Linked DNA regions of Homo sapiens. The protein of the gene in region 3 interacts with the protein of the main gene of each other region in a biochemical or structural test. Each region holds a gene or a part of one and is shown on either strand. Other genes may lie near its edges.

The links.
Region 1: the proteins of MAGI2 (region 3) and RPS6KA1 interact in a test that uses a peptide from one of them, tested with the Homo sapiens proteins (2 studies listed by BioGRID and IntAct, with this or other methods).
Region 2: the proteins of MAGI2 (region 3) and CRHR1 form a complex in vitro, tested with the Homo sapiens proteins (2 studies listed by BioGRID and IntAct, with this or other methods).
Region 4: the proteins of MAGI2 (region 3) and ADRB1 interact in a test that uses a peptide from one of them, tested with the Homo sapiens proteins (4 studies listed by IntAct, with this or other methods).

Annotation. Positions count from the first base shown.
Region 1 is NC_000001.11:26,553,752-26,560,771, forward strand, and holds part of RPS6KA1 (ribosomal protein S6 kinase alpha-1), read left to right. Parts: intron 1-462; coding exon 463-500; intron 501-790; exon of another isoform or gene 791-842; intron 843-844; coding exon 845-987; intron 988-1,399; coding exon 1,400-1,470; intron 1,471-1,785; coding exon 1,786-1,874; intron 1,875-2,902; coding exon 2,903-2,967; intron 2,968-3,246; coding exon 3,247-3,349; intron 3,350-5,055; coding exon 5,056-5,186; intron 5,187-6,974; coding exon 6,975-7,020. UniProt on the Homo sapiens protein: Serine/threonine-protein kinase that acts downstream of ERK (MAPK1/ERK2 and MAPK3/ERK1) signaling and mediates mitogenic and stress-induced activation of the transcription factors CREB1, ETV1/ER81 and NR4A1/NUR77, regulates translation through RPS6 and EIF4B phosphorylation, and mediates cellular proliferation, survival, and differentiation by modulating mTOR signaling and repressing pro-apoptotic function of BAD and DAPK1.
Region 2 is NC_000017.11:45,829,305-45,836,324, forward strand, and holds the end of CRHR1 (corticotropin-releasing factor receptor 1 isoform 2 precursor), read left to right. Parts: coding exon 1-17; intron 18-256; coding exon of another isoform or gene 257-343; intron 344-789; coding exon 790-910; intron 911-1,112; coding exon 1,113-1,266; intron 1,267-1,575; coding exon 1,576-1,636; intron 1,637-3,833; coding exon 3,834-3,906; intron 3,907-4,147; coding exon 4,148-4,233; intron 4,234-4,409; coding exon 4,410-4,545; intron 4,546-4,702; coding exon 4,703-4,744; intron 4,745-5,319; coding exon 5,320-5,460; coding exon of another isoform or gene 5,461-5,509; 3' UTR 5,510-6,524; downstream 6,525-7,020. Other genes in the region: LINC02210-CRHR1 (CRHR1-IT1-CRHR1 protein), read left to right, coding at 1-17, 790-910, 1,113-1,266, 1,576-1,636, 3,834-3,906, 4,148-4,233, 4,703-4,744, 5,320-5,509.
Region 3 is NC_000007.14:79,450,655-79,458,329, forward strand, and holds the start of MAGI2 (membrane-associated guanylate kinase, WW and PDZ domain-containing protein 2), read right to left. Parts: upstream 3,014-7,675; 5' UTR 2,667-3,013; coding exon 2,366-2,666; exon of another isoform or gene 2,303-2,365; intron 1-2,302. UniProt on the Homo sapiens protein: Seems to act as a scaffold molecule at synaptic junctions by assembling neurotransmitter receptors and cell adhesion proteins. Plays a role in nerve growth factor (NGF)-induced recruitment of RAPGEF2 to late endosomes and neurite outgrowth.
Region 4 is NC_000010.11:114,039,674-114,046,868, reverse strand, and holds the start of ADRB1 (beta-1 adrenergic receptor), read right to left. Parts: upstream 3,004-7,195; 5' UTR 2,737-3,003; coding exon 1,303-2,736; 3' UTR 1-1,302. UniProt on the Homo sapiens protein: Beta-adrenergic receptors mediate the catecholamine-induced activation of adenylate cyclase through the action of G proteins. This receptor binds epinephrine and norepinephrine with approximately equal affinity.

The DNA.
Region 1 (7,020 bases), on a different chromosome or scaffold from region 3:
GCCACCTTTAGAGGTCTTTCCTTGATAAAGCCCTATAGAATTTTCCCTAATATCTAACTACCCTCAAATGATAACTAAGGAGCCAGGGGCAGGTGGTGAGTTGGAATAAGATCTGGCTTTAGTGTTAGGCAGCCCTGTATTCAAATCCTGTCTCCACCTACTAGCTAGACTTACTAGCTCAATGACTGTAGAGCTACTTAACTGCCCTGAGCCTTAGTTTTCCCATTAGCAAAACGGGGCCCTAATAGTACTTGCCTCACACAGTTGCTTCAAGGATTAGCAAAAAAGATAGGCAACACCCCTGCGTGGTACTGCTACCACCCTGCAACACCCGCCCAGTCATCAGAGAGAATTGGGTGGAGCACCTCCTCTGGGCTGAACCCAACTCCCACAGCCCTGTGGTAACACCATCACCCACACGGCCACAGCTGAGGGGCCCTGACCACTATTTCTCTATTACAGCATCCTTCTGGATGAGGAGGGCCACATCAAACTCACTGGTGAGTGGAGGGCGCCTGCCCCCTCGGGACCCAGGGGAGGACAGGACAAGGTCATGATAGGTCTCGGCTGAGTGCTGGGGGCTCATTCTTCCCGAGAAGCCGTGCCAGTTACTTGGAAGTGGTCAAAAACTCAGGCCTCAGACTTGGAACACCCTCAGCTGGAATCCCAGCCCCTCATTGTGTAACGTTGAGCAAGTCACCTGACCTCTCTGGGCCTTAGCTTCCTCCTGAGTGTCATGGGGGTGATGCCTTCTGGCCTCTGGGCACGGGGGTTGGGTGTGCAAAGGGTGGCAGCAAGGAAGGCAGGGGTCCTAAGGTGTGTCCTCCTGCCCTCCTTGCTGTAGACTTTGGCCTGAGCAAAGAGGCCATTGACCACGAGAAGAAGGCCTATTCTTTCTGCGGGACAGTGGAGTACATGGCCCCTGAGGTCGTCAACCGCCAGGGCCACTCCCATAGTGCGGACTGGTGGTCCTATGGGGTGTTGATGGTGAGTGCCCAGACAGGGGTAAAGGATCCAGCCCAAGCCTCTGGCCTCAGTCTCCCTATCTGTACAGTGAGGGGGTTGATCATTTCTAGGGCTCTCCCCGTCTCCTCTCACAGCCAAGCTGGCCTCACCCTATATGCACCTGCAGTTTTCTTCCTTGGAAGGATCCCAGGCTTGACCCCACCTGGGACGCGCCTAACCCAGTGCTGGCCTTCTCCCCAGCCTCGCGCCCCCACCGCTGCTCCTGGTGGTCTGGTTGGCAGAGGCAAGAGGGACGGGCATAATTCTTGCTCCAGGCTGACTTGGATGTATCAGCAAGAATCCTGGGACTGGGGCAGAGGGGTCTGACTGGGAGGAGGCGGGAGGTGTGTCGGAGACAGGGATCAGAGCCTGAATAGATCCTTGTCCTCTGCAGTTTGAGATGCTGACGGGCTCCCTGCCCTTCCAGGGGAAGGACCGGAAGGAGACCATGACACTGATTCTGAAGTAAGCCCCAGCCCTGCCCTGATAACAATGGACTCCTCCAAGCCCCAGCCCCAGTTTGGGGGTCAGAATATTATTACCCTGTCCCTGCCTCAGCTACCCTCTCTAATGAGACTCTCCTCTGGGTTAAACATTATACCTTCCAGAGCCCCTCTTTCATCCCTGGGGGCCTGTGGGTAGGATCCCTGAAGCCTTTGGGAAGTGAATTAGTGGATGGCTTGTCTAGACTGAGCTGGGAACTAGATCTGGACAGGGGCCGGGGGAGATGGGGCCTCTGGGGCAGGGCTCAGCCTTGATGAGTCCCGGGGGCTGTTTCAGGGCGAAGCTAGGCATGCCCCAGTTTCTGAGCACTGAAGCCCAGAGCCTCTTGCGGGCCCTGTTCAAGCGGAATCCTGCCAACCGGCTCGGTAAGCAGCCCCAGCTCAGGGGAGGGGATGTGGCGATGGGGAGCCGGGTACAGCTGCAGCCTAGGCCACAGGGCCACATCTGGGCTGAAAGGGGCCGTTGTCCTTTGTGTGGGCAGACAATGCCGCGGGCCACCCTGCTTTCTGGCTCCATGTGTGGTGTTGTGGAGGGGGGAGTTGACCTGTGTGTAGGGGGAAGGCAGGAACTGAGTCATCCCTACTCCCTCTGGGGACAAGGACAGAGGCCCCCACACAGCTTCTCCGCCAAGGCTGCTGGCACAAGAGAAATAGCATGAGCTCAGGAGTCAGAAGGCATAGGTCCCAATCCCGGCTCTGTGTCAGGTCCCCACTGCCTGGCACAAAACAGTCCCTCTATAAATATTTGTTAAACGAATGAGGCCACTTATGAACTAAGTGACCCCAGGCAGGTGACTTCACCTCTCTGCACCGCAGGTTCCTCGTCTCAATGGGAGATGATGATCCCAAGCTTGCTTCAGGGCTCTGTTGATGAAATGAGGTTGTGTGAACATGCCGGCATGTAGTAGGTGTCCAGTGTGTGCTGGCTTCCCTGGCTCCTGGGTTCATCTGGTCCATGACCAGCTGTGTAAGGTCCAGTCAAGGCCCCTGGGGTCGAATGGAGTAACAGCCTGTCCTATGGTTGAAAAGGTCAATGGGATAAGAGGAACAGAGATGAGGCTTGCCTTGGAATGAGGTGGGGCTCTCTGTAGGTCTCAGAACAAGCTCAGCTTCTGTTCTAACTGTGTGGCCTTGGAGAAGTTGCCTAAAGTCTCTGGGCCTTCCTCCTCCCACTGGTACATTGGAATTTCTTCATCAGAAGCTCCAGAAAGTGGAAAATGCTGAGTAGGTGACAGGCCTTAGGGTGATGGCTGGGTAGATTTGAGGCTGAGTGAGCCCATTTTCCCCTCTGCTCCAGCAGCTGGTCCCAGAGCCCTGTGAGGCTGCTTGGTGGGCAGGGTAATATCTGGGACTTGTGCCAGCCAGGGACAGACCCTTCATTTGGGCTCTTTCAGGCTCCGGCCCTGATGGGGCAGAGGAAATCAAGCGGCATGTCTTCTACTCCACCATTGACTGGAATGTGAGTGTGTCCACCCACACCAGGGCTCTGGCCAGGGCTCAGCCATCTTGGCCACAGGAAGGGTGGTGGGAGGGGAGCCTCTGCCAGCGAGGGCCCCAGACGCAGGAGCAGAGGGTCACAGCCTGCCCTTGAAGACAAGGGCTGGCCTCCTGAGGGCAAGCAATTCCGAGAGCTGGGCAATATGGCCTATGTTCCAAGCCCAGCACCTCCTCCTGCATGGGGCTCCTGGTGGGCTGTTGAGGATGCCATGGTGACCAGAGTGCCCACCCCACTGTGCAGAAGCTATACCGTCGTGAGATCAAGCCACCCTTCAAGCCAGCAGTGGCTCAGCCTGATGACACCTTCTACTTTGACACCGAGTTCACGTCCCGCACACCCAAGGGTGCGTCCCTTATCTGTTTTGTCTGTCTTGGGCTGGTACAGGAGGGAAGCCGGGAGTCGGTGGCAGCTTGGGGGGCAGAGATAGTCAGGGACACTGACAGGCCGAGGTATGCGGGTGGGCAGGCGGGTGAGTTTCTGGCTCCGTGGGACTGACTTTGTCCCTGTCTCACTCCGCCCGACTCTCTCACTATGGGGCTCTGTGGGTCTCTTTGTGTCTGGTGAGAGAGTGGGAGTGGGGATGTGTGGGTGGTGAAGGCCACAGTAGAAAAGCCAGGACCCCTGCCCGGGGCACCTTCCAGCCCACTGGGAAGACCAAACACATCAGGCTTACCATCACGTCAGGGAGAAAGAATCTGACCCAGCCACACTGTGTGGTGGCTGAGCAGAGGTGACAGTGCCCATAGGTCAGGGACAGGCATGGGAATCAGCTTTGGCTGCCCTGACTGCCCGGCCTCCGTGTACTTATCTGGAACAAGGGCACAGCCACAAACCCACTCATTCCCTGGGGTTGCTACAAGAAGCCAGTGAGGGAGCTTCTGGGAAGGAACCTGGTGAATCCTAACTTTTTGGCCAGATATTGACAGTGGGTGTGGGGTGGAATGTTCTGGGAAACCTCCTATAAGGGCATGTTTTAGGAGAGGGTGTGCTTTTCTTCTCTCCTCTCCTCCCCTCCCCTCTCCTCCCCTCCCCTCCCCTCCCCTCCCCTCCCCTTCCCTCTCCTTCCCTTCCCTCTCCTCTCCTCTTTTCAAGATGGAGTCTCGCTCTGTTGCCCAGGCTGGAATGCAATGGCGTGATCTCAGCTTACTGCAACCTCCACCTCCTGGGTTCAAGAGATTCTCCTGCCTCAGCCTCCCGAGTAGCTGGGATTACAGGCATGTGTCAGCACGCCTGGCTAATTTTTGTATTTTTAGTAGAGACGGGGTTTCACCATGTTGGCCAGGCTGGTCTCGAACTCCTGACCTCAGGTGATCCACAAGGGGGTGCTTTTCTCACTGCACTTGCACGCCTCTGATGACAGAGACAGCACTTCTCCAAGCAGTCCGCTGGGCAACGTGACAAGTGCAGCTTCGTAGGAGTCAGGGGCCGGAGGAGCAGCATCAGGCAAGGCTTCTCAGAGGAGGGAGCGTGCGAGTTGAGTCTTGAAGGATAGGCAAGGAGTGGATTATCTAGTTAAAGGGAACAGTGTGTGCAAGGGCTCAGAGACCCCTCTAAGGATCTGAGAAGTCCAACATGGCTCAGCTGTGGTATGGAGAGAGAGGAGGTGAGGATCACAGGGCCCTCAATTGCCAGACTCAGGAGCTGGACTTACTCCTGAAGGCAGACGGGAACCTTTGAAAGGTGTGGGCAGGGTGGCAGATTTGTGGTTGGAACCTTCCCTCTGGCTGCTGTGCAGAGATGGACCTGAAGGGGCTGACGTAAGATGGGGAAGCTGGGGAGGAAGCATCCAGGAAGGGATGAACTGTCTTGGCCTGGGATGGAGGTGGATGTGAGAGTCTTTTTTGTTCCTCATGCGACAGGACTGGGCTGGTCTAATAAACACATATGAGCAGTTGGGCCAAGGCCTGTGATGGACAGGCCCTCTGCAGGCTCCCGCCACGGCCAGCCCCTGAGGCAGGTCTGGAGGCCCTGTGCTCCCCCTTTGCTGGGCTGCCTCAGGGTCGAGGGGACCTCCTCAGGTACCCTCACATTCTCCTTCCATCCGTACAGATTCCCCAGGCATCCCCCCCAGCGCTGGGGCCCATCAGCTGTTCCGGGGCTTCAGCTTCGTGGCCACCGGCCTGATGGAAGACGACGGCAAGCCTCGTGCCCCGCAGGCACCCCTGCACTCGGTGGTACAGGTGAGGGGGGCAGGGGGCTGCTGCTCCATTATCCTTTTCTAAAGAATGGCTGAGTACACAGGCTCTGAGTTGGACAGAACCAGGTTCATACCCTCATGCCACTGTGGGACCAGTAGGGCCTCCAACATAAAACAGGGACAGTAAGGCCCACCTCACACAGTGGCCCTGATAATTGGATGATGATATGGGTGTACATTTCCCAGCACAGAGCCAGGGTCTGGGTACATGTCAGGAGGTGCCCAGGGTGGTGGTGCCGAGTGACTGTCGTGTCTCCGGCATAAGTGTAGCGAAGGACTTGGATCTCATCACACTTGTTCCCCATTTGTACACTTCTACTGCTAATGAAAGTTTCAGGTTGAGAGGCAAGAATGTAGACTGTGGAGCTCATTGCATGGGTTCCAGATTCACAAGATAATGGACTTTGGGGTTTTTTGTTTGTTTGTTTTTGAGACGTAGTCTTGCTCTGTTGCCCAGGCTGGAGTGCAGTGGCACAATCTCAGCTCACTACAGCCTCCACCTCCCAGGTTCAAAAAATTCTCCTGCCTCAGTCTCCCGAATAGCTGGGACTACAGATATACACCACCACACCCAGCTAATTTTTTTTTTTTTTTTTTGTATTTTTAGTAGAGACGGGGTTTTACCATGTTGGCTAGGCTGGTGTCAAACTCCTGACCTCAAGTGATCCGCCCACCTCAGCCTCCCAAGGTGCTGAGATTACAGACATGAGCACCTGACCAGATAATGGACTTTGGATGAGATACTCCCTTCCTCGTGCCTCAGTTTCCTCATCTGTAAATGGGGGAAATGATAGAAGCTTCCTCCATAGAGCTGTTATGAGGATTATTAGAGTTAATACATGTAAAGTTCATGTGGGCTGGGCACGGTGGCTCATGCCTGTAATCCCAGCACTTTGGGAGGCCAAGAAGGGTGGATTGCTTGAGGCCAGGAATTTAAACAGACCCATCTGGCCAACATGGCGAAACCCCGTCTCTAAAAATACAAAAATCAGCTGGGCGTGTTGGCGCGTGCCTATAGTCCCAGCTACTTGGGAGGCAGAGGTTGCAGTGAGCTGAGAACGTACCACTGCACTCCAGCCTGGGCAACAGCGTAAGACTCTGTCTCAAAAAATAAATAAATAAAATAAAAAATAAAGTTAAGGTGACTATGTAATTTATTTTCCAAACTGGGACATCTTAGTCCAGGACAAATATTAAATCAGACTGGATGCAAGGACCGCATGCGCAAGCCAGGGCTGGCCGTGGGGCATGCAGTCACCTGATGAAAGTGCTTAGAATAGTGCCTGGCACACAGCACACACTAAGCACCATTCAGCATTGCTACGGCTAATGTCCCAGAACCTTGAGACACCCCATGAGTTGAGCTGTGACACCCCAGAAAGGGAGGCAGGCCACTCAAAGCCGTACTTAGTGGCACAGCTGGAACTCAGCTCAGGGCTCCTGCGTCCCTCCCAGGCCTGCCCAGACTTTTCAGAACTAAAGTCCTCTCCATGTGTGTTGTGACCCTGTTTCCCACTCCCTACACTGCCCTCTGACCACAGGCTGCAGTCCAGGCAGGCTGGGAGCCAGTGAGTATGCCCATTATATAGAGTAGAAAACTGAGGCCCAGAGAGGGGCAGGCTGTCACCTGCGGTCACATGGCCAACACTCTACCCCAAGTCTCCTGGCCCTTCCCTGGTGCTGTCTCTACTGAGCCAAGACCTTAGGTCCTGGGGGATGACCCCTAGCACTCTAGAGCCAGGGGTCAGCCACAATTTTTGGTCTCCTACAGCAACTCCATGGGAAGAACCTGGTTTTTAGTGACGGCTACGTGGTAA
Region 2 (7,020 bases), on a different chromosome or scaffold from region 3:
CTCTTTCTGCGGCTCAGGTGAGAAGACCCCAGCACTGCCTCCTCCTGTCCCCAGGACCTAGAGCAGAAGCAGGGTGGAGAAGTGAGAGGAGCAGCTCTAGGTTGGGGTGGGGGTTGCTGGGAGAGGGTGGCAGGGGCTGGCTTATCTGAGAGTCTCAGGTCTCTGGGAACCTCTGGCAGAGCCGCTCTGCCCTCTCCCCAGTAGCTGCTGGAATGGTGGGGAGGGACAAAACTTGTCTTATGTCACCCATACCCAGGCCAGGCTGCACCCATTGGGGTGACCAGGCAGATGGAGCCCTGGAGGTGGGGGCTCCATGGAGTGGTGCCCCATTTCAGGTTCGAAGGTACCTGGGCCCCAGCACTACCGCCAAGGATGCAGGTGGCAGAGCCGGGGATGGGGATGGTTGGGATCAGGAGCCGAGCATCAGGGCTGGAGGCTGGGAGCAGGGCTGACCCCTGTGACTGTCCATCCTGGAATGGCAGGGAGTAGAAGGCACCCCCAGGGGAAGCGGGCATCGCCAGGAATCCAGCTGCCCTGGTCCATGGAGCACAGGCTCCATGGAGTGCCAGGCTCTGCCTGGGGCTTATGTCTGGGTGGGCTGCAGGCAGGAAGGGCTCCATGGGGCATTAGGAGAGCCTGGCTGTCACCTCCCTGTGTGACTTGGCCAGTCAGCCCCACCCTGTGCCTCAGTTTCCTCATCTACACATCTGGGCTGGGGTGATGGAGGTGGCCTACCCCTCATCCTCTCTCTCCTATCGCTCCCATCATCCACCCGCCCTGCTGCACCAGGAGCATCCGGTGCCTGCGAAACATCATCCACTGGAACCTCATCTCCGCCTTCATCCTGCGCAACGCCACCTGGTTCGTGGTCCAGCTAACCATGAGCCCCGAGGTCCACCAGAGCAACGTGGTACGTCCTGGCAGGGGAGCGGGGAGCAGGTCAGGCCAAACCCAGGTCAGAGGAGGGGCCCGCCTGCCCTGCAGAGGAGGAGCCCACAGAACAGGAGTGGGATCCCAGGGTATGCCCTGTCCTGCCCTGGGGAGGCCCAGGCCCAGGGTTTGGTGCCTCCCCTGCCCCCCATCATCATCTCTGGTTGGGGGTGGGGTGGCAGGGCTGGTGCAGGTTGGTGACAGCCGCCTACAACTACTTCCATGTGACCAACTTCTTCTGGATGTTCGGCGAGGGCTGCTACCTGCACACAGCCATCGTGCTCACCTACTCCACTGACCGGCTGCGCAAATGGATGTTCATCTGCATTGGCTGGGGTGAGCTGGGCAGCCACCTCCGCAGCCTGGGCAGTGGCGGCCGCCGGGCTGCCCTCTCCTCCAGACTCAGGCCAGCGGGCTGGGGGGCCTGAGGGATGGAGGTCGGGTTGGGGCGGTAAGGTGTGCACGATAGCCCTCTGCTCCTCTTGGGGGTGGGCGGCAGTAGAAGCACCTTGAAGGAGGTGTGTGAGTTTGAGATCCACCCTGAGTAACCCCAGACCCCCTGGAGCCTGGGCTGCACTGGGGTTCTCCAGGCCCACATCCTCCAGCCCCCGCTGAGGGCTCTGTGACAGCCCATCTCTCCCCCAGGTGTGCCCTTCCCCATCATTGTGGCCTGGGCCATTGGGAAGCTGTACTACGACAATGAGAAGTAAGTCATCTCCTTTCCCTTCCTGACCCCAAGGTTTAGGCTCCCAGCCCAGCTTGGTGACACTCCCCACGGGCATTGGCCATGCTGGCTTTTTCCCCTCAGGACCATGGTTTCTGCATCTATAAAGGGAGAGATCTGGGGGCTGGACTCATTCAGAGGGTCCCTGCCTGTGCTCTGCCTGGGTGGGGCTGGACAAGCAGGACCCAGCCTCCTTTATCTGCCTTGAGCTTACACAGGAAGCAGCCTGGAGCCAGACTGCCCAGGTTCAAATAGCTGTGTGACCTTGGACAGATTACTGCAGTGTGCCTCAGTTTCCTCATCTGTAAAATGGACATGCTACTGCCTCAAAGGGCTGTTGTGGGGTGATATGAGTCCATCTATATTAAGCATTTACAATAGCTCCTGGCACATAGAGTAAATGCTATATAAATGTGTTCTATTAATATTAAGACATCTTAATAAAAGAGTCCATGAATTTAATAGAAGTGGACCTAGATGATCTCAGAGGCTTCTTCCAGCTCTGAAGTTCTTTGGTTCCTTATGAAATGGACTCAGATGTTTCCAATCGTGCCTGGAAACTTGATTTCTGCTGCAGTGGAGCTCAACTTTGGCTCACATTAGAATCACCTGGAATGCTTGGAAAAGTACCAATGCCCAGGCTTCACCCTCAGAGAATCAGGCGCAATTGGTCTGGGGTGTGGCCTGGCACCCAGAAGTCTTGAAAACTGCCCAGGTGATTCTAATGTGCAGCTCAGATTGAGAACCACTGAGAGAGAGCGGGGCAGAAAAGGTGGACATGGATGGCAGGGGAGCCCCAGGACCTTCTTTGCCAAACAAGTGTTCCCGGGAACCTATCTGACTGACGGACCTGGCGTCCAAGTGGCCTCCACCACAGTGACAAGCCCTCTCCTCCCCCATGGAGGGGAGGGGGCCTGCACGGCTTCATTGGGCTGAAAGAGGAGCCTGGAAGATTATCTTGCGTGTTTATGTGGTTGACTCCCTCCTGACTCCCTCCTGACTCAGGCTGGCTGAGGCCTTGGGAAGCCGAGGCAGGCGGATCACTTGAGGTCAGGAGTTTGAGACCAGCCTGGCTAACATGGTGAAACCCCGTATCTACTAAAAAAAAAACAAAAAAACAAAAATTAGCTGGGTGTGGTGGTGCGCACCTGTAGTCCAGCTACTCGGGAAGGCTGAGGCAGGAGAATCTCTTGAACCCAGGAGGCAGAGGTTGCAGTGAGCCAAGATCGTGCCACTGCACTCCAGCCTGGGCAACAGAGTGAGACTCCATGAGTCTCAAAAAACAAAGCAAAACAAAAACTGTTTGGGCTAAAGGAGAAAGTGAGTCTGAGCGGCTCTGAAGCTCCACCTGGTGGTGAGAATTCAACACTGCAACAGAGAGGATCTGGGTGTGAGAAACCAGAAACGAACTTGCAGACCAGAGGCCCGAGGACTGGACCCGGCCCTCAGAAGCTGTGTGTGGCCAGCATGGTGTTTTCTGAAAACTCGATTTTGTAGCCAACCTTTAAAAAATCCAAAGGTTTCATTTACAAATCTCAATTTCTGGCTTATGAGATCTAGCCACTGGGGGTCTTCATACCCACGAGGACATAAGGGCTTCCAGTTTGTCTGGTCCCCACCCACTCCCCAGGCCTCCCTGGAGCTTGCTGGAGGGACACTCGGGAAAATGCAAAGCAATTACCTCCTGCAGCAGGTAGAACCTGTGCAAGTATTCCTCTCAAGGTTGTTCAGGCTGTGACTGGACAGATTCAGGCTGAGATTGCGAACTGCTGGGTGCCCACTGGGTGACAGGTGTGGTGCCACTCCCACCAGCAGCCCCCCAGAGGGCATGCTGGGCCTCAGCCACTGCCAGGGGACTGTGAGGAGGAGCCGAGGATGCAGCCTCGTGTTGGGCCCATGCCCGTTCCCAGCCACTCAGTCTTTCCCACTGTCTACCTCCTGCCCCGGTGCTTGCTTCCAACTTTGCATCTCATCACAGAGGATGCTGTCCGTTCTGCAGATGGGACAATTGAGGCATGGCAGTGGGATCAAGTGACTTGACCTTCTGCCAGGGTTGGAATTGGGACATCTACCTCTTGGCCTCCAGCCCCAGTCCTGTCCTGGCCAAGCACTGTCCCTCCCCATGCCATCGAGGTGGACGCAGATGACCCTTCCTCCCCTTTCCTCTGTGGCCTTCTAGGTGCTGGTTTGGCAAAAGGCCTGGGGTGTACACCGACTACATCTACCAGGGCCCCATGATCCTGGTCCTGCTGGTAAGAACCTGGGTAGGGGCAGGAGACAGGGCCCAGTGGGGAGGGGCAATCAGTGCCAACCGTGGACAGAAAGGACTCCTCTACCTAGAGGTGGGGGCCACCCAAAGAGGGGGCATGGGTCAGAGATGTGCAGGTGCTCATGAGGAGGAGGGAGAACAGCAGGGGCACTGAGGCCAGAGCTGAGAAGCCTGGGTCCCAAGCCTCTTGCACACTCCGGCCCGCTGGTGTGCTCAAATTGCAGATCAATTTCATCTTCCTTTTCAACATCGTCCGCATCCTCATGACCAAGCTCCGGGCATCCACCACGTCTGAGACCATTCAGTACAGGTAACCGGGTACCACCTTCCTCAGGCCTCCCCCTGATGAAACCCCTGCTCCCCATGCCTCTCACGTGCCAGAGACCTGCCACTCCCTCCCCCGACCTGGCCCTCTTTGCCGAGCCAGCGGGCAGCCCGTCCTGGGGTGGGCTGTGACTCCGAGCCTCCCCACCCGCCCCACCCCAGGAAGGCTGTGAAAGCCACTCTGGTGCTGCTGCCCCTCCTGGGCATCACCTACATGCTGTTCTTCGTCAATCCCGGGGAGGATGAGGTCTCCCGGGTCGTCTTCATCTACTTCAACTCCTTCCTGGAATCCTTCCAGGTACAGCCCTGGAGGGACACATCAGCACCTCCTTGGGTGGGGATTCTGCCAAGCAGAGGCCTGGAGGGCAGGAGGCCAGGGAGAAGCAAGGGGCAGCCCAGAGGCTGGGTGGGCAACACCTGCAGCCGACCTTTGACGCCTCCTCTCTCCTCCCCAGGGCTTCTTTGTGTCTGTGTTCTACTGTTTCCTCAATAGTGAGGTGAGGACCCGGGGGCCCTGCAGCGGGGTTCAGGGCTGTGAGGCCTGTTGGGACTGGCGATTGTCTAGAGCCTTCTCCTCCCCTCCCAGGGCTGCCTCTCTCCCTCCCTGCTCCTAGGTCCCTAGGGGTATGCTGCTGGGAGCCCCAGGGTGGCCCCTCCCACCTGTCCACTCCCACAGTGACAGCCCCCTCCTTTGCTCTCAGAGGCCGCTGGCACCAGGCTGGAAGCCAGAGCTCCAGTATCTTTGATGAGCCTGTGAAAACCAGGAAGGGCTGAGCCCTGGGCAGGGGATACATGTGGGTTGAGGGCAGGGAGCCTTCATGGCAAAGGGCATATGGTGCCTTCGTGTGGGTTAGAAAAGGGTGCCCCTTCCCCAGGACATTTGAGAAACCTGTTCCGACAAATATGCAAAGCAGTCGTGTTAAGGCTGTGAGTGTCATCCCCTACTGAGGACTTCCATGTACTCAGCTGACCTGCACAGCCGCTTACCTGCACAGCTGCTCGTGGCGGCCCAGGGGAGGGAGGGGGTCCTGAGCCACAGGCTCAGATGTCGTGCTCCTCCCTGTGCCCACAGGTCCGTTCTGCCATCCGGAAGAGGTGGCACCGGTGGCAGGACAAGCACTCGATCCGTGCCCGAGTGGCCCGTGCCATGTCCATCCCCACCTCCCCAACCCGTGTCAGCTTTCACAGCATCAAGCAGTCCACAGCAGTCTGAGCTGGCAGGTCATGGAGCAGCCCCCAAAGAGCTGTGGCTGGGGGGATGACGGCCAGGCTCCCTGACCACCCTGCCTGTGGAGGTGACCTGTTAGGTCTCATGCCCACTCCCCCAGGAGCAGCTGGCACTGACAGCCTGGGGGGGCCGCTCTCCCCCTGCAGCCGTGCAGGACTCTAGCTCATGAGTGGAAAGTCACCTACAGGACTGGGCCGGGCCCAGGGCCTCTGGCTTCCCTGCCCAATCCTCCCTGGAGAAGGGACATGGGAATGAATTGAAATGGGGCGCTGGACACCTACAGCAGCACGCATGTCCCTCCAAGGCTGTCTTCTCCCAGAGCACAAGAAGGCCAGCCCACTGGGCCCTGGGGCTGCCCTCGGCAACCGTGGGGAGGCCATTTGCTGCCCTGGGGCATCATGGGCAACTCGTGACAGCCTCTGACTCACCACGATGACGCCTCTGGACCTCGGTGATGCCTTCCGACACCACTGGGAACCAAGGGCCCTCACTCAGGAACCCTGGAGACAGAAGTCAGGTGTCATCATCAGACTTGCGGCCACAGCACTAGAGTCACCCCCCCAGGCCTCCAGAACCTTACTGGCACTGTGGCACTGCCACCAGCAATGCCCTGCCTTGCTGCCTTCACCCTGAACATTTAGTACCCTGCAGGCCAGGCCAGCTTCCCCTCACTTAACCACCCCATACCAGTCACCTCCTGCTCCTTTTCCTCTTTTGTGAGAAGATGGGGGCTGGAGGGGGCAGAGTGGCCTGTGAGCAAGAGCCAGGGGTGTCCCAGTCCCAGCCTCTGGGGCAGAGCTTGTAGCCCTGGATGGCCTCTGGGGCAGGACCACTAGCTAAGCAAGCCAGGAGAAGACCCCTGCCCAAGTGGCTCTTGGGACAACGTGCTGCTTACACTCCAGGTGTGGACCGGCCGCAGCCCCCACTGACCTGCCCATGTCCAGAGGGACTGGACAGCCAGGGCAGGGCTTTGGGGGGCACTAGAAGATGAGGGTGTCGGCTGTGAGGCGGGTGGCTGGTATAAATAATATTTATCTTTTCAACCAGCATTTGTGAAGGCCTGGACTCCACAGGGGGCTGGATGGAGAGGGTGTCTCACAGAGGTGGGGGCTGCTTCCCAGCTTTCAGGGGCTGCTGTGTTGCTGAGAAACCTGACCCCACTCTCACCCCGGCAAGGATGGTGCCAGGAGAGCCCCTGAGGGCCGGGAGAGGGGTGAGGGCAGGAGGGAGGGCTTCGAGGAACAGGTGGGTCTGGCCAGGGCCCCCTTAGTTAGGGACAGCTTGTTGTGAGGAGGTGAATTAGAGGGAGAGGAGGGCCACGGTTAGGGATGCAGAGGAGGGACACCATGGGTCAGGGGAAGGAACAAAGGAGACGGGAGTGTGTCCCAGCCCCAGGCAGGAGCTGTGCTGATTGGTGGGAAGCAGAATTAGGATGCTGGGCCACTGGACAGGCTGTGAATGCAGCTGTCTCCACTAGGGCCGCCACAAGAAGCCATCCCTGAGACCCTGAGGTTTCTTGTGCAAACTCGAGGGAAGGGGAGTACA
Region 3 (7,675 bases):
TCTAAAAGCAATAATCTTCCACATAAAATTCAATACAAGAGTGATCTCCAACCACATTAGATCAAATTATGGCAAGATTCAAATAATATCTAATCCAGGTCCTCATCTTATATAGGAATCCCTGGCATATGGTCATTTCAGCCTCTTCATGGATACCCACAATGATGGGAACTTCAGCCAACAGGGTGCTCACAAATTTTTGGAAAACTCTGTTAGAAAGCTCATGATTTAATGAAAGTAAAGCTGCTTCATCCTTTCAAATTTCTCATAGATTTATCACCATTTTGTCCTGTGGGCTATCACAGGATAGTCAGAATTCCTTTTCTTACCTGATAGCTTTTCGCTATTTAATGATAGCTTTCATTCTTTCACTTCTCCACGTTAAGTCTTTCCACGGCATTTCATAGAATACATCTATAATACACAATAATCTTCCTTTATTTCTCTTTTGAACTTACTCTTTGCTAGCGTGACAGTTTGCCAACGTCCGCCTCAACAAGGAGTGCTCAGAATTGAACACAACATTTAAGATGTGATGATCATTGCAAACTATAATAGGGCATCCGTTTGTGGGACTCTATTAAGTCCAATTTAACAACGCTTAACTTTTGCAGCCACGTTCCATGACAAATATCAAGCATTTGGCCAACAAAACCATGGTCATTAGTTGTGTAGTAGACTTTTCGTACCCAAAGATCTTTCCATTTATGTCTATTCCTATAAGGTGGTATTTTGACATCGAACATGTTAACATGAATCTCTGTATTTGAACCTTAGGTATCTTATCTTCAAAAATATCAAGTTACTCTATTTTCCTTCCTACCAAACTCATATCCCTTCAGTGTTAAATAGTATGGAGCTATGTTGACTTATAATAACCTATCTCAATTTATTACCTCTTAATACTCAAGAATACCCAAGGAAAACATTTTCTTGTATGGCAATTTACATTTAAGAAACCTTGCCCAGTACTTCTTTTTATCTTGTTTATTTTAAAACAAGTTTTTTAGAGAATAATTTAACAGTGCGGTACATCTCCGTAAAAGCATTTCTTAGTAGTTGATCATGATTAAGCGGCAAAATGCAGGTAATGACATGCTCAATTCCACCTTTGAGTCAGGACAAACAGTGTACATCGACGACAACAACAAACCCTTATGCTAATATGCCTGTGACGCAAATATCCATACATACCGCACACGAATTGTGCAGTGAGCTAAAAAAGAAAACAGAAAAGAAAAAAGCTACTACTTTATTCTACTTAAAGTTGTCCTCTATTCAAACTTTTATCTCACTCTTCTCTCCTTCTGCACCATAATTTTCTTTCGAGCAAAGACAGGGAGTTCTGGATGATTCCAATCTCCCCAAATCCACATCACAGCCTCCAATTGAGGTTCATTTAAGTCAGGTTGGAGCTGAGGGAGCCTGGGCTGGAACCGGCCAGGGTTTCATCCAGCTCCTCCCCCAAAACACGCCCCCCAAATCGGAGCCAGAGGAGAGCCCAACCACAGAGGACTTCCACTCAATGAGGGCAACCCCTGAGTAAAGTCCATGCGGACAACCATTCATCTCCTCCGACAACCATTCATCTCCTCCGACCCCCGCCCAGCACTAGACTGCGCTCCTAGCACCGCGCCTTCTTCCGGAGCCTCCTCCCCCGGGCTGGCTAGGGGTGAGCGCAGGGGTTAGTCAGTACGCACGTGACGCGCGATGCCCACATGACACGACCGTGAGCGGGGGAGGGGGACACGGAGTGAAGAAGGGGAAAAGTTACAGAAGACCCGTCAAAGCGCCCAAAGCAATTTGTCCCTTCTTTTCTTCGCCAGCGGTGGCTCACGGATCCCTAAGGGACAGCTGGGGACCCAGGCGCCCCCAGCCCAGCCCCAGAAACGCTGGACGCAGTTCTCCGCTCACCCCACCACCTTCTCTTCCCAGACCCGCTGGTGATGCCGCTGCACCCTGAAGTTGCTCCTTCCTTCTTTCCCTCCCTTCCTCCCATTCTTTCTTTCTTTTCTTCCTTCCTCCCTTCCCCAAAAGCTCTTCATCCGCTTCGGGTGATGCCACTGACGCACATTCAATTTGCCCCAGCAGCTCTGAGGAGGTCAGACCAGGCCGAGCACCTTCCAAAGGGGAGGGTCTAACTGAGCAAACAAAGTTGCACGCCACACCACAACCTGCCCCTCCCCTCCCTTTAGCCCCCAAGTCGAATCCCCGGCGAAACTCACTTGCACTGCGGGTGCTCTCTGGCCCCCACCCCATCATCGCGCAACACACCCCCTTCAACATGCGCGGCCACCCTTTCATTGCCCTGCGCCCCGAGCGGTCCCACCGCCCGGCAAAACACTGAGCAAGCCGCTGCTCTCACCTTGCTTGACACACTTGAGCCGGAGGGGGTCCTTGCAGTGTTTGATCACGGCCAGCACGTCCCTGATGGTGAGCCCCGCCACGGGGGTCTCGTTCACCTCCAGCAGCAGCTCCTCCGACACCAATTTGCTGCCGCTCTCATAGGCCACCTTGCCGGGCTTCACCTCCCCCAGGTAGGGGAACTGTCCATTCTCGGCGCCCCCCTTCAGTTCAAAGCCCAGCTGGCCCTCCGGGTTCCTGCCAATGACACTCTCATGGACTTTGCTAGTCCAGTGGCTTTTCTTTTTCAAGCTTTTGGACATGGCAGTGGGGCGAGTCGCCTCAGTTCCTGGGCTCCTTGGGGTTAGGGGGGCTGGTGGTGAGAGAATGAGGATGGAGGAGCAAGGGGGCCCAGGGGGAAGAACAGCAGACTTTGCCTTCGCCCCCCTCTATTCGGTGCTTTCCCTCTTCTTTGGATGGAGTGTGGACGAGGAATGGGGAGGATGAGAGGGACGGCTGGGCAGAGGTAGGAGAGCTTGGATGAGGTTGTGCTGTCCCTTGAATGACACTCAAGGCTGTGGCCCCGCAGCAGAGGAAGCAGTGGTGGTGGCGTCGGCGGCGGCGGCGGCGGCAGCCGGAGCGAGCAGTAGCCGAGCTGGTGAGCGGGTGTGGTGGGGGTGGGGAAGGAGGGTAGGGATGCCGGGGGCCACTCCTGCGTGGTGCGAGTGGGAACGCGCGCGCGCGCCTGGGTGTGTGTTGTTAGCTGATATCCATGGCAGCTGCAGTGGCAGGGTGCGTGTGCGTGTGTGTGTGTGTGTGTGTGTGTACTAGTTCTACTGTACTGGCAGACGGGAGGAGGCAGGGGAGGAGGGGCGCGCGCGCCGGGTGGGGAGCCACGGAGGGCTTCGCCGCTGCCTCCCTCCCTCCCTCCGCAGCTTGACCCGGTAGTGAAGGCAGAGAGAGAGGCAGGCTGGGTCCGCCTGGCAGCCTACGGGAGGAGGCGGGAGCCGGGAAGGAGGGGAGCCTAGGCCCGGCGTGGGGAGGCCGGCAGGAAGGGCCTCGAGCCCAGTGCGGACCTTTCTTCAGCCTCTGTGCGACCGAGCCGCGCGCCAGGCTCCTGTGCGAGGAGGACGCGCTGACTCCCTCCGACCTGGGCTCCGATGGAGCAGAAATAGCGGGACCTGGACTTGTGGCGCGCCTGGTGCCACATCTCGGGCTCTGCGAGCGTCCTGGCGCGGGATCCTGCCGTGAGAAGGAGTTGGGGCGGGGGACCCGGCGGGGCATTGCGGGAGAAGGCCTGGGATCCCTGGGAGCCTTGTAGCGTGGGGGAGTTCACTGTGTAGAGAGGTTTCATGTCTTCATCTATATAGTCACTTATTTGTCTTAAAGTTCTCGAAATTCCCTCTTAGAGAAGGAGAAAGTTAGAGAACTGGAGGCTGCGTACCCTGATTACGCAGAAGGGAAGCAGCCTCGCATTCCCCGGGGCAGGCCCCCGCCCGCGCGTCCCGCCAGTAGGGGAATTTAGCGGACGGCTGCGGTTGTCTGGTGAAAGGCTATCCAAGGATAAGGGGCTTCACTTTTCCCAAGTAGGGGAAAGAGAAGGGGTCTACAGGGCTAGGGGTGGAGGGAGCGGATGCAGTGAGCAGCCTCCGCAGAGAAATTGACAATTTAACCAGGGACCTGCGGCAGAGACAAGGCGGAGACACTCCCTTGCCCAGGAAAGCCGCCAGAGTCCGGCTTGTACCTGGGGAAGAATCCTTAAGACGGTCTGGCCCAACACTCCTTTGCTCACAGAGAAAGGGGAGAAGACTCCCGAGGGTGAAAATGGTACATTCGGAGCTGGAACTCAGCTCGCTGACCCCAAGCAGTGTTCCCTTCTTTTCGCCAGGTTTGCATCCAAGAGAGGGGAGGACAGGGGCAAAAGGATGCAGGGAGGCTGCTGATTTCCACTGAAGAGCTAATTTCCTGTGAGACATTAACAGTGATTTAAGAAAAAGATTCCTGTAACTGGTAAATGAATTTCATTTGCTTAACTTTTAGATGATATGTTTCAGGCAAAAAAAAAGTTGTGCACCCACTTATCTCTTTAAAGCGGAGGATGAAAAGCATTGAATAGGTAGGATTCTTAATGTCTGAGATGAAGGCGATGTAGGAGGCAAACAATACGGTTAAAAATGTTGAGTCGACCCAAACAGAAAGACCAGGTTTCAATCCAGACTCTGCGGCTTACTGAGAATATGATCTTGAGTAAACTGCTTGACCTTCCTGAGCCTCAGCTTTCTTAGTTGTTAAATGGACTTTAACAATACTAATCTGTTAGGACTGTGGTGAGGATGAAATCAGGGAAATCAGTCACAGCAGTGCTCTCCTGGCACAGGTGAGTAGGAGTTCGAAATGATAATTCCCTCCTCTTTCCCTCTTAGGTATAACTTACTACTTGGGGATGAGGGGGATCAAATGTAGTCAGAACTGGAAGAGATCTTAAAAAAAGATGATTTGTTTAACCTTGTGTCTTTTTTTCACTTGAGAAAACAGATCCTCCGTAAGTTGGCTGCACTAGTTGAAGCTTATTCAGTGAGCCAGGGGCAGTGCCAGGATCTGAAGCCAGAGCTGCAGGCAATGCCCAGGAGTAGGCAAGACTTGATAGCAAAGCCTAATCTCACCCAGAGAAGTTGAGTGTTAGCATTATGAGGCATAGTTCTAAATGGAAACTCATCATGAGAACCGAATATATACATATTGTAAAACCAAATGACAAGCTACCATTCATGGAATATACTAATATTTATTAGGTTCTAACTACATGCAAGATGTTGTTTTATAGGCTTTACACATAATACTTAATTTCTCCTGACATTTTGATAAAATAGGTACTGTTATCTCCTTTTACAGGTAAGGAAACTGAGGTATACAAGGATGAACTTTTGCAAGGCTACAAATCTTGTTAATAGTGAAGCTAACGTTCAGACCCAAGTGGTTCGGCTCTAGACTTTGTCTCAGTTACTGAATTGAACTCTCTGTGCACTTACGATGTGTCATACCAGTTCTCACTACATAGTGTCCCAAAAGATTGGGCCTGCTCTTTCTTTCAGAGACAATTAGGAAAAAAGTAAACAAACGGAGCAGGATTTGGGCATAACAGCATGCTCCTCCCATCCCCCAAATCCCAGGAGTGTCACTGAGGTCAGTGCCAGTTAACTTAGTGCTCTTCAACTTCACAGCTACCCTTCTTTGCCCTAAATTGTGACATTAGAGCTGAAATCTGTAAACGTCTTTATGGTCAGTTGGCACAGTGTTTAGCTTTGTCAATAGAAGGTGCTAGGGGAACACTGCAGAAAGAAAGGGGCTCCTTTTCTTGGTTCCAGTGCTTTCCTGCTTGCTCCTACGGTGTGGTGGCCAGTGAGTGACTTTCTGACCAGTGGTGTGCAAGAAGGCCATGTTACATAATCTTCAGTAAATTTGGCCAGTTCCCTAGTATGTGTCTTTCTATGGAGTACCACTGGCATGTCAGTGGAATGGCTTCCTAGCAAGTTTTACTGAAAACACAGCTGATGGTTTCCTCAGCAGCCCAGTGTGTGACACCTTAAATTTCTGGATCATTAAGTGGACCACAGCCATATTATTTCCAATGAGCGCCTACTTTCAGGCTTAGTAGGGTGGAGGGTGGGTAGGGGGAAGTTCTACTCAGTTATTCCCTCCTTGGGTACTCTCCTAGAGCCTGAGAGATAGTGGCTGTTCCCAATAACCACTATTACTGTATTCTTTAGTGGGATTTTTTCCTGTCCTAATAGTCAATACCCTTTGACTGGATCTTAACTGATAAAAGTGGAACCCTGAGGAAAGCACTATCCTTGGAGTCAGAAATTGGGATCAGATTTTTTTTCTTTCTCTTATGGTATTCCTCATATTCGCTTAATTTCTCCACTGCCTTTACCCTTTTTGGATTTGATGCTATGTCAAGAAAAAATTATTTCATCACTGAGCACTCTGAGTGTAGAGCAGAGTGCTAAATATTGCATGCTATTCCAGAAGAAAAATAGTTTAGGAATCCTAAAAGCCAAAGAAAGAAAGATATGAATGCATTCAGTTCTTAGAAGAGTTCTATGAGATAGATGCTTGTGGCAGACATAGTCTCCACCCAGATCTCCTAGGATCCCTTTGGTTGAATCTGAGTATCCTTCCTCTAGCTTCTGTGTTCTTTTACTTCTCACAGCCTGCCCCGAGAATCTCTTTGGAGGAAGGCCCAAACACTACTAGACTCACTTTGTGTACTGGCATAGAGAGCCAGACAGAACCACCTGCAAGTTTACTTCTTTCCCAGGATACCCTTTGCCAAGGACTTTCCTATAGAGTATAAAAGACCAGCCGTCTTGCCTCTAGTAGCAAGAAAACCTGAGGTGTAATTTACACCCTGAGGCTCCCCTATAGAATTATATTGATGTTAATATTTTGCCTGAAACCACCTTCTTCCCTATCTTGCTTACTGTGGTACCTGATGAGTTTTTCTTGGTAGCATTTCTATAATAAATCACTTGCAGACAATCTTCATCTCAGGGTTTGATCCTGGGGATCCTGACTTAAGACATTGCTATTCTTTTTTTTTTTTCTTTTACAGATGAGGAAACTGAGGATCAGGGCTTTTAAATTGCCCCAAATCACACTACTAATAAGAGATAGAGTTGTGGTACCTTTTTTAGAGGGACCATTATTCTGCTGACTGCAGTACTGTAGAGCATAAAGTTTCTTATCCACACTGTTTCTTAGTTCAGTCTGTCAATATCACTACTCCACGATTATTGTTGTTTGTTTTTCTTTCTCCCTGTCTTTTACCTCAAAAATCTCTATTGTGATGCCAGAGAGACCTTTCTGAAACCTCTCCTTTTTTCTGTGTTTAAAACCCCCCAGTGCCGCCCATGAAATACACAGCAAAGTCCAAACTCCTTATCTTGCTTGGATCCTCCTTTCCACCCTTTTTAACTGTTCAGCCATATTTCTCCATGTACTTCTGAGATTGGAACCCAGGGCAACAAAGCTAATGTGGGTTCTCCAAGATTAACACAACTGAAAGGAGGCCCCTTTATGCCATCTATTCTAGGTCCCTTGGAATATAATTAAAAACAGGAATTTCAACATTGAAATGTAATGATGTTCAGGTAAGGGCAGTAAGGTACATTGACTTGAGTCAATCTCCCACCATGTCTGGGGACTGGGACAGCTGAGCCAGGGGTCCTACCTAAGGGTCAGGCCTGTGTCTTCACTTCTCCTTTCAACCCTTTACTTCTTCCAGAGTTGAACGGCTTACTTTCCTTCTCTCACTAGGCCATTTCATGGC
Region 4 (7,195 bases), on a different chromosome or scaffold from region 3:
TCCTCACACAGTAGTTAGTTGCACCAGAGTATAAATACTTGGTAAAACACACAAGAGGAAGTAGAATTTACACACAAGTGCTAACTTTCACCAGCAAATTCACGTGGGCACTTGGACATAAAAAAAAATAAAAAATCCTTAAGATAATTATATTTATAATATGGATACAGTTACAGTACCATGATAAAGGAGTATAAAAAGGTATTTTCCCAATGAATCATTAGCTCAATAACATACTAGACAACAGAAGTAGAGTTTGAATTTTATTTAAGATCTGCCCAGCCCCTCTCCCTTTAAAAAATATTTAATTTCTTTTTGTGCAAGTAACATCTTCTGTGGATTTTGTAATTCCTAACACTGTGCAAAAATGGCATTTTGAACCACTCCTTTTTTTTGTTTTTGTTTTTATCCACATGTGCAGTAATCTGAACTGTTTCTCTCTCTCGCTCTCTTTTAATGTCCTGTCTTCAATTGACAGAGTCACATGTCACAGAGAGAGGCTCTGCGCCTGGTCCTTCCAACTAATATTGATACATAAATAAGCTGTTTAATATAAACAAGTCTTTCTATCTGCTGTGCAAATGCACAGTGTGAGGTAGAAATCCCTCAGCCTGACCACCCAGGCGCGCGGGGGACAGCGGGTTTGCCCTACACAAGGAAAGCAAGGTGGGGCTTGTTCCAAGAAGAGCTTAACATTTCTTGAAACGTGATTTTTTTTTATTTTGCCTCCATCCTTTCTCTTTGCTTTCATAACAGCAGAAATCATTACTTAGAAATTAAAATGAAATTTCTCTGGAAAGCAAAAGGAAATATGTCTTGACAAACTGTCATTCTCCTCTCTCTGGCTGGTAGTGTGTTCCTGTTCCCGGGAAAGGGATGGGAGCCACGATGATCGATTTTAATCCCCTCCTAATGCTTCTCCCTTCCCCTAACCCACCCATCTTCCACTCCGGTCCTCTCAGAGAGTGTCAAAAACCACCTGGTGGGGGAAAAAAATCTAAAGATGCATCACACGCACACACAAAAGAAGGCCGGACCACAAACAGAAAAAAAAAAAAAAAAAAAAAAGAAGAAGAAAGAAAAGAAAAGAAAAAAAAAACAACAAGGAACATCAGCAAGCCACTCTCCCATCCCTTCCCAAACTTTCCTTTTTGTGCAACGGTCCGTGGCTTTTCTCTTTGCCTCGGATGATTCAGACGAGGATTGTGGGCTTCGAGTTCACCTGCTATCGGTCTTAAGTAAACACAGATCTCCTCGTTCCCCTGGGAAGCCGTGCCCGGAGTCCGCGCCCCGCGCCGGGCCCTACACCTTGGATTCCGAGGCGAAGCCGGGGCGGCACGGCTCGTCCAGGCTCGAGTCGCTGTCCGCCGCCGCCCCGCCGTTGCAGCCGGCCCAGGGCTCCAGCAGGCGCGCGGGCGGCGTGGCCCCGACGACATCGTCGTCGTCGTCGTCCGAGGCGGCCCCGGGCGATGGCGGGGGTCCGGGCCGGGCCAGACAGCCCGAGGCGCGCGGCCGGTCTCCGTGGGTCGCGTGGCGCCGGCGGGCAGCCCTGCGCGCGCAGCAGAGCAGTCCCTGGAAGGCCTTGCGGAAGTCGGGGCTGCGGCAGTAGATGATGGGGTTGAAGGCCGAGTTGGCGTAGCCCAGCCAGTTGAAGAAGACGAAGAGGCGGTCGGGCACCAGCTCGCGGTGGAAGGCCTTCACCACGTTGGCCAGGAAGAAGGGCAGCCAGCAGAGCGTGAAGACGCCCATGATGATGCCCAGCGTCTTGAGCGCCTTCTGCTCGCGCAGGGCCACGAGGCGCGAGGGCCGCCGCTTACCCGCACGCCCGTTGGCCAGCGGGGCGGTGGCGGCGGCGGCGGCGGGGCGCGGGGGTCCGGGCGGCGGCGCGGGCGCGGGGACGGGCGAGGGCGAGGGCGAGGGCGGCCGCGCTGGGCCGCCGAGGAAACGGCGCTCGCAGCTGTCGATCTTCTTCACCTGCTTCTGGGCCTCGCGGAACACCCGCAGGTACACGAAGGCCATGATGCACAGGGGCACGTAGAAGGAGACTACGGACGAGGCGATGGCGTAGGCCCGGTTGGTGACGAAGTCGCAGCACTTGGGGTCGTTGTAGCAGCGGCGCGCCTCGTCGCTCTCCGCCCGCCACCAGTGCATGAGGATGGGCAGGAAGGACACCAGGGCCGAGATGGCCCACACGGTGCACACGAGGCCCCGCGCCCGCGCGCGCGTCAGCAGGCTCTGGTAGCGGAAGGGCGAGGTGATGGCGAGGTAGCGGTCCAGGGCAATGACACACAGGGTCTCGATGCTGGCCGTCACGCACAGCACGTCCACTGAGGTCCACAGCTCGCAGAAGAAGGAGCCGTACTCCCAGCGGCCCCACACCACGATGGTGGCCCCGAACGGCACCACCAGCAGCCCCATGACCAGGTCGGCGCTGGCCAGGGACATGATGAAGAGGTTGGTGAGCGTCTGCAGCCGCGGCGTCTTGGCGATGGCCACGATCACCAGCACATTGCCCGCCACGATGAGCAGCACGATGAGCGCCATCAGCAGACCCATGCCCGCTGTCCACTGCTGAGACAGCGGCTCGGGGCTTTCGCTGGCGGGAGGCAGCAACGAGGCGGGCGGCGACGCGGGCACCAGCAGCCGCGCCGCGGTGGCCGCGCCGTCGGGGAGCGGTGCGGCCGACGACAGGTTACCGGGCTCGGAGGCGCCCAGGACGAGCACCCCCGCGCCCATGCCGAGCTGCGGAGGCCGGGGGCGGGGGGTGTGGCAGGGCTGGGCCGTGGTTGGGGAACACCCCAGAAGCCCGGGCGGCGTGGTGCGCAGAGGGAGGTCGCGGCCGGGTCAGGGCAGCCGCGGCGCGGGGCCGGAGGCATGGGCGCCGGGCGCCTTTCCCGCAGGAGCCGAGCGCTGTCGCTGCCGCTGCCGCCGCCGCCGCCGCCGCCGCTGCTGCTGGAGCCGCTGCCGCTGCTGGAAGAGCCGCCGGGACTTCAGCATGTTTCTGAGCGCGCCGGGCCCGCAGCTCCGGCACCCAGCACCCACCCCACCCCGCTCCCACTCCCCAAGCCAACCCCCGGGGCCTCGCGTCAGGCTCCTGCAGCCAATCCGGGCAAAGGCACGCCCCCGTCTGGTCTGCACCCCCACCTCCAACTCCCCGCACCCCCCTCCCGTTGGCAATTGAGCGGCTCCTGAGAGTCCCGAGCTGATCGCGTAGCTAGTGCCTCCCGTGCGCCCGCGGGTTCCTGCGGACGCACCCCTTCCTGCGCCCGCTGGTTCCTGGTCCCTGTTCCCCCGCGCCCCCTTCCGCGCCTGGCTCCCCCCGGGGCCCCGTCCCCTCCCTCAGCCCCCACTCGCTCCCGCACCCACTCCTGCGCCCCGTTTGCCTCCCGCACCCGCTCCTGCGCCCCGTTTGCCTCCCGCACCCGCTCCTGCGCCCCGTTTGCCTCCAGCACTCGGCTCCCTCCTGCGCCCCCGCTCCCCCCGCATCCCCTCGACCTGCAGTTCCGGGGTTCTCTGCGGAACAGAGCGCTAGCTCCCTTGAGCGGGGAGGGGACCTTGGTGTTCAGGAAGCGCCAGAGCGCCTGGGACAGCTTGTCCGCCAGGCTTGGAGGAGTTTGCCCTGCGAGCTTGGTTGTGATGTGGGGCAGCCTAGCAGGGTGTGTGTAAAACCCTTCCCCCGTCAAGACGGGACCCAGCCAGCATGCGTCGTGACAGCTTGGGGGATTGGAGGTGGGTGTTAGTGGTTAGAAGAAACTTCCCAGCAGAGCGGGTTGCTGGAGCCAAGCGCGCATCTGTCAAGAATGCTCTCTGGGCGCTGTTCTTGCAAGGATCCTCTGTTGAACCTCGAGTGCAGTAGATGTGGAAAGGAAGCGAAGGTTTGTGCATCTAACAGCTAACGCTGAGGGCCCTTTGGAATCGTACACACTCCTCAGTCCTAGCTAATGAACGTGTGAGCATGATGCAAAAATGTATGCTCATGATATGAAAGGAGAGGCTTAGGGAGACAGAAACGTTGAGATACAGAGTAAACGATACCACCGCGAGGGGGAAAAAACGCGTTTAATTACATTTTAGACTTTTCAATGATAACACCTGTATTTTGTGTTTTATTACTCATGTGATTTTATAATTTGAGCTGGGTCAATACAAACAAAAAGGTACTGTCAGTTTATGCTGACGTAATGAACTGCGATTTCAGATTCCTTGGTCTGCGTGCTTGTTTTCTCCTTTGCCCAAGTTCCCAGATTCTCAAAACTCTGAGATTAGTTTTGAAGGGATGAGACAAGAAAACATATAAATACTCCAGAGGATTAAAATCCAAAAGCATTTAAAGTTGTATCTGTGGTTTTTTTTTTTTTTTTTTTTGAGTTGGCAAATGAATTGCTTTGAAATTAGTGAGTTGTTAACCTGGCAAAAAGGATTATACTGGGGGTGAGGGGACAAGAAAGCCATGAATATGCAATATGGCAGGACTGCAAGCCCCTTCTCTAATTTGGCTCCTGTAGTGTCCTCAGCTCAGGCCTGAAATAAAAAAAAAAATAAAAAAATTAAAAAAATCTCTAATTGAGTCCTTGAGGAGTAAACAGCTTCTAATTGTTTATGTAAGGGTGCATGAAAATGTTATATAATGCTCACAGGTCCTTCTAGCATTGGAATAAGAACAGCGCCCGTAACGAACATCATGTTCGTTGATGGTCATCAATATGACCAAGCTCATATCCTTACCTTGCAAGGAGAGACCGACTTCCACAGCTGTCCAGGTCAAAAGCAAAAAGTAATGTTTTTCAAGTTTATATAAAATCAAGCAGTTTTAACCACTTTCTCTTACATAAATGCAAACATATGAATTTGCTTTAGGCCCAAACCTCAGCATCAGTATGTTAAAACTGGGGAGTGATTTGTTTATTCACCCCCTGCCCATGATTTATCAGCTGATTTTCCAACTTGGGGAGGTTGAGGAGGAGTGGCCAGGAAACAAGAGGCGTTAGAAAGGGGAGGAAGGAGACTACACCCCAAGTTATCCAAGTCACTGAAAGCCTGAGACTCCTGGCTTCTTTCTTTTTATTTTTTTGAGACAGAGTTTCACTTTTGTTGCCCAGGCTGGAGTTCAGTGGCGTGATCTTGGCCCACTGCAACCTCTGCCTCCCGGGTTCAAGTGATTCTCCTGCCTCAGCCTGTCAAGTAGCTGGGATTACAGGCGTGTGCCGCCACACACGGCTAATTTTGTATTTTTAGTGGAGATGGCGTTTTACCATGTTGGTCAGGCTGGTCTCGAACTCCTGACCTCAGGTGATCCACCCACCTTGGCCTCCCAAAGTGCTGGGATTAGAGGCATGAGCCACTGTCCCCGGCCTCCTGGCTTCCTTCTGGACCCACAAGGGGCAGTCTCAAAATAGCCAAGGGATTGGAAGAAGTTGAAATTGACGCTGCCCAGGAAAGGAGTTCTGAGTGCTGAGCTGCAGGGTGAGGCATAGGGAATGTGGGGAAGAGGCTTTTCCTTGCCATCTTTCTGTCAAGTGGTGTTACCGGAATAGAGTGTGTCAACCTTAAATGCCCCCGAAGGGTGGAAGGCATTGCTTTTCTGTGTGCGATAAGGCCAGAACTTGGTCGTAGAGGTTCAGGGCAGAAGCCAGATTGCCAGTAACTTTGCCGTATCATCATTATATATATAAACACATCGTGACATTGGAATTGTTGGAAAACTTTCCTGAAACTTTTTTTCTCTGCTCATTCAGAGATACATCAAGTTTCTCCGAATTTCTGTATAATACATTAAATTATAAACCCTCGAAACCAGAAGGTTATTCTAGCAGGAGTACCAGTACAGGGATCTCAGGAATTCTGGGGGATTTCCTTCAATTTTACTGACAGAAGAGTTTGGAATAGTACATGTTCAACTAGAGTTGGTTGTCTAATAAAAATAAAATGTTCTCAGAACTCCTTTAATTCCTACATTTTATGATTGGTGTTTTTTTTTTTTAACTTTTTTTTTAGCCTAACACTTTTTATTCTTAGGTAAGGATACAAGATCAAGAAGAAAAGGTTCAACGTATCAACTTTTACAGGTATCGGATATTGTAAGTTAAATAAAACTCCTTCATTTCTTCATTCTTCACTTGGCAACTGTTAAAGAGAGTCAGTTCTAAAAACCCATATATTTCACAATGCTTTGGAAAATGACAGAAAGCTCCAACAATGAGGGCTGATCAGCACACTTGAGAGGTCGTGCACTTCTTCCACAGAGTTCCTATCTCAACTTCTTCCTTTCCCATCCCCCCACCTTCACCCCACACCGGGACTTGCCATGGGTTCTATTTGATCTCCCTGTCTCTGGTCCTCCCTGCTCCATTTAATCTGGCATATCATAACCAAAGGAGTATTTCCAAAATGCTGCTTTGACCAAGATGCTTTTCTGTTCAGCAACCTTACCTCTTCAATTTAACATTCACAGTTCTCCCCGGTCCAATTCTAAATGGCCTTTCCAGCCCTATTTCATATTAGAACTCTCCTTATCACCATAACTTGCATTTCTGTATTCTTTTTCCTTTTGGGGATCCATACTCCTTCCTTTTGTACATCTATACTTTCTCACTGGGTTCCCTCCACCAAAACCTCCTCCTGCTTCCCAGCGAATTCAGCCTTGGAGATGTGGCTGGACTCTTTATCTTCTCTGCCCACTGCTTCTGAAAATGATCTCTCCTTCCTCTGACCTATAGTAGTGACTCTGCCAATTTCATTTCAGGTGGCAATTTACAATAGGTTGCCTTTTGATACTTCTTATGTTGTTATTTAATTTTTATATTTTCCCCTTTTCTTCTCTTATAGATTGTAAGCTCACTGAGAGCCAGAATTGTCTCATACATTTTTATATCTCCCATGTTTACTGATATTTACTTGATATTAATGAACATTTAGCTTTGATTCATAAATATATGATATTTAATTTATTAAAATATTCTCATTTTTATACACTTGAGACATAATTGAGTGTTTTAGTAGTTACAATCTTCACTCTTGCTTATAATTTACAGCAATAATCCATATTCTTACCACCTATTCAACATTTTCACATAAACATTTCAAAATACTTTACAAAAGCAAGGTAGGCTCATGAGATAAATGTATATCATACCTATTCGTAGTAAATAAAACGAGACATAGGTAAGAGATTTTCCAAAGGAGACATGCAAGTCCA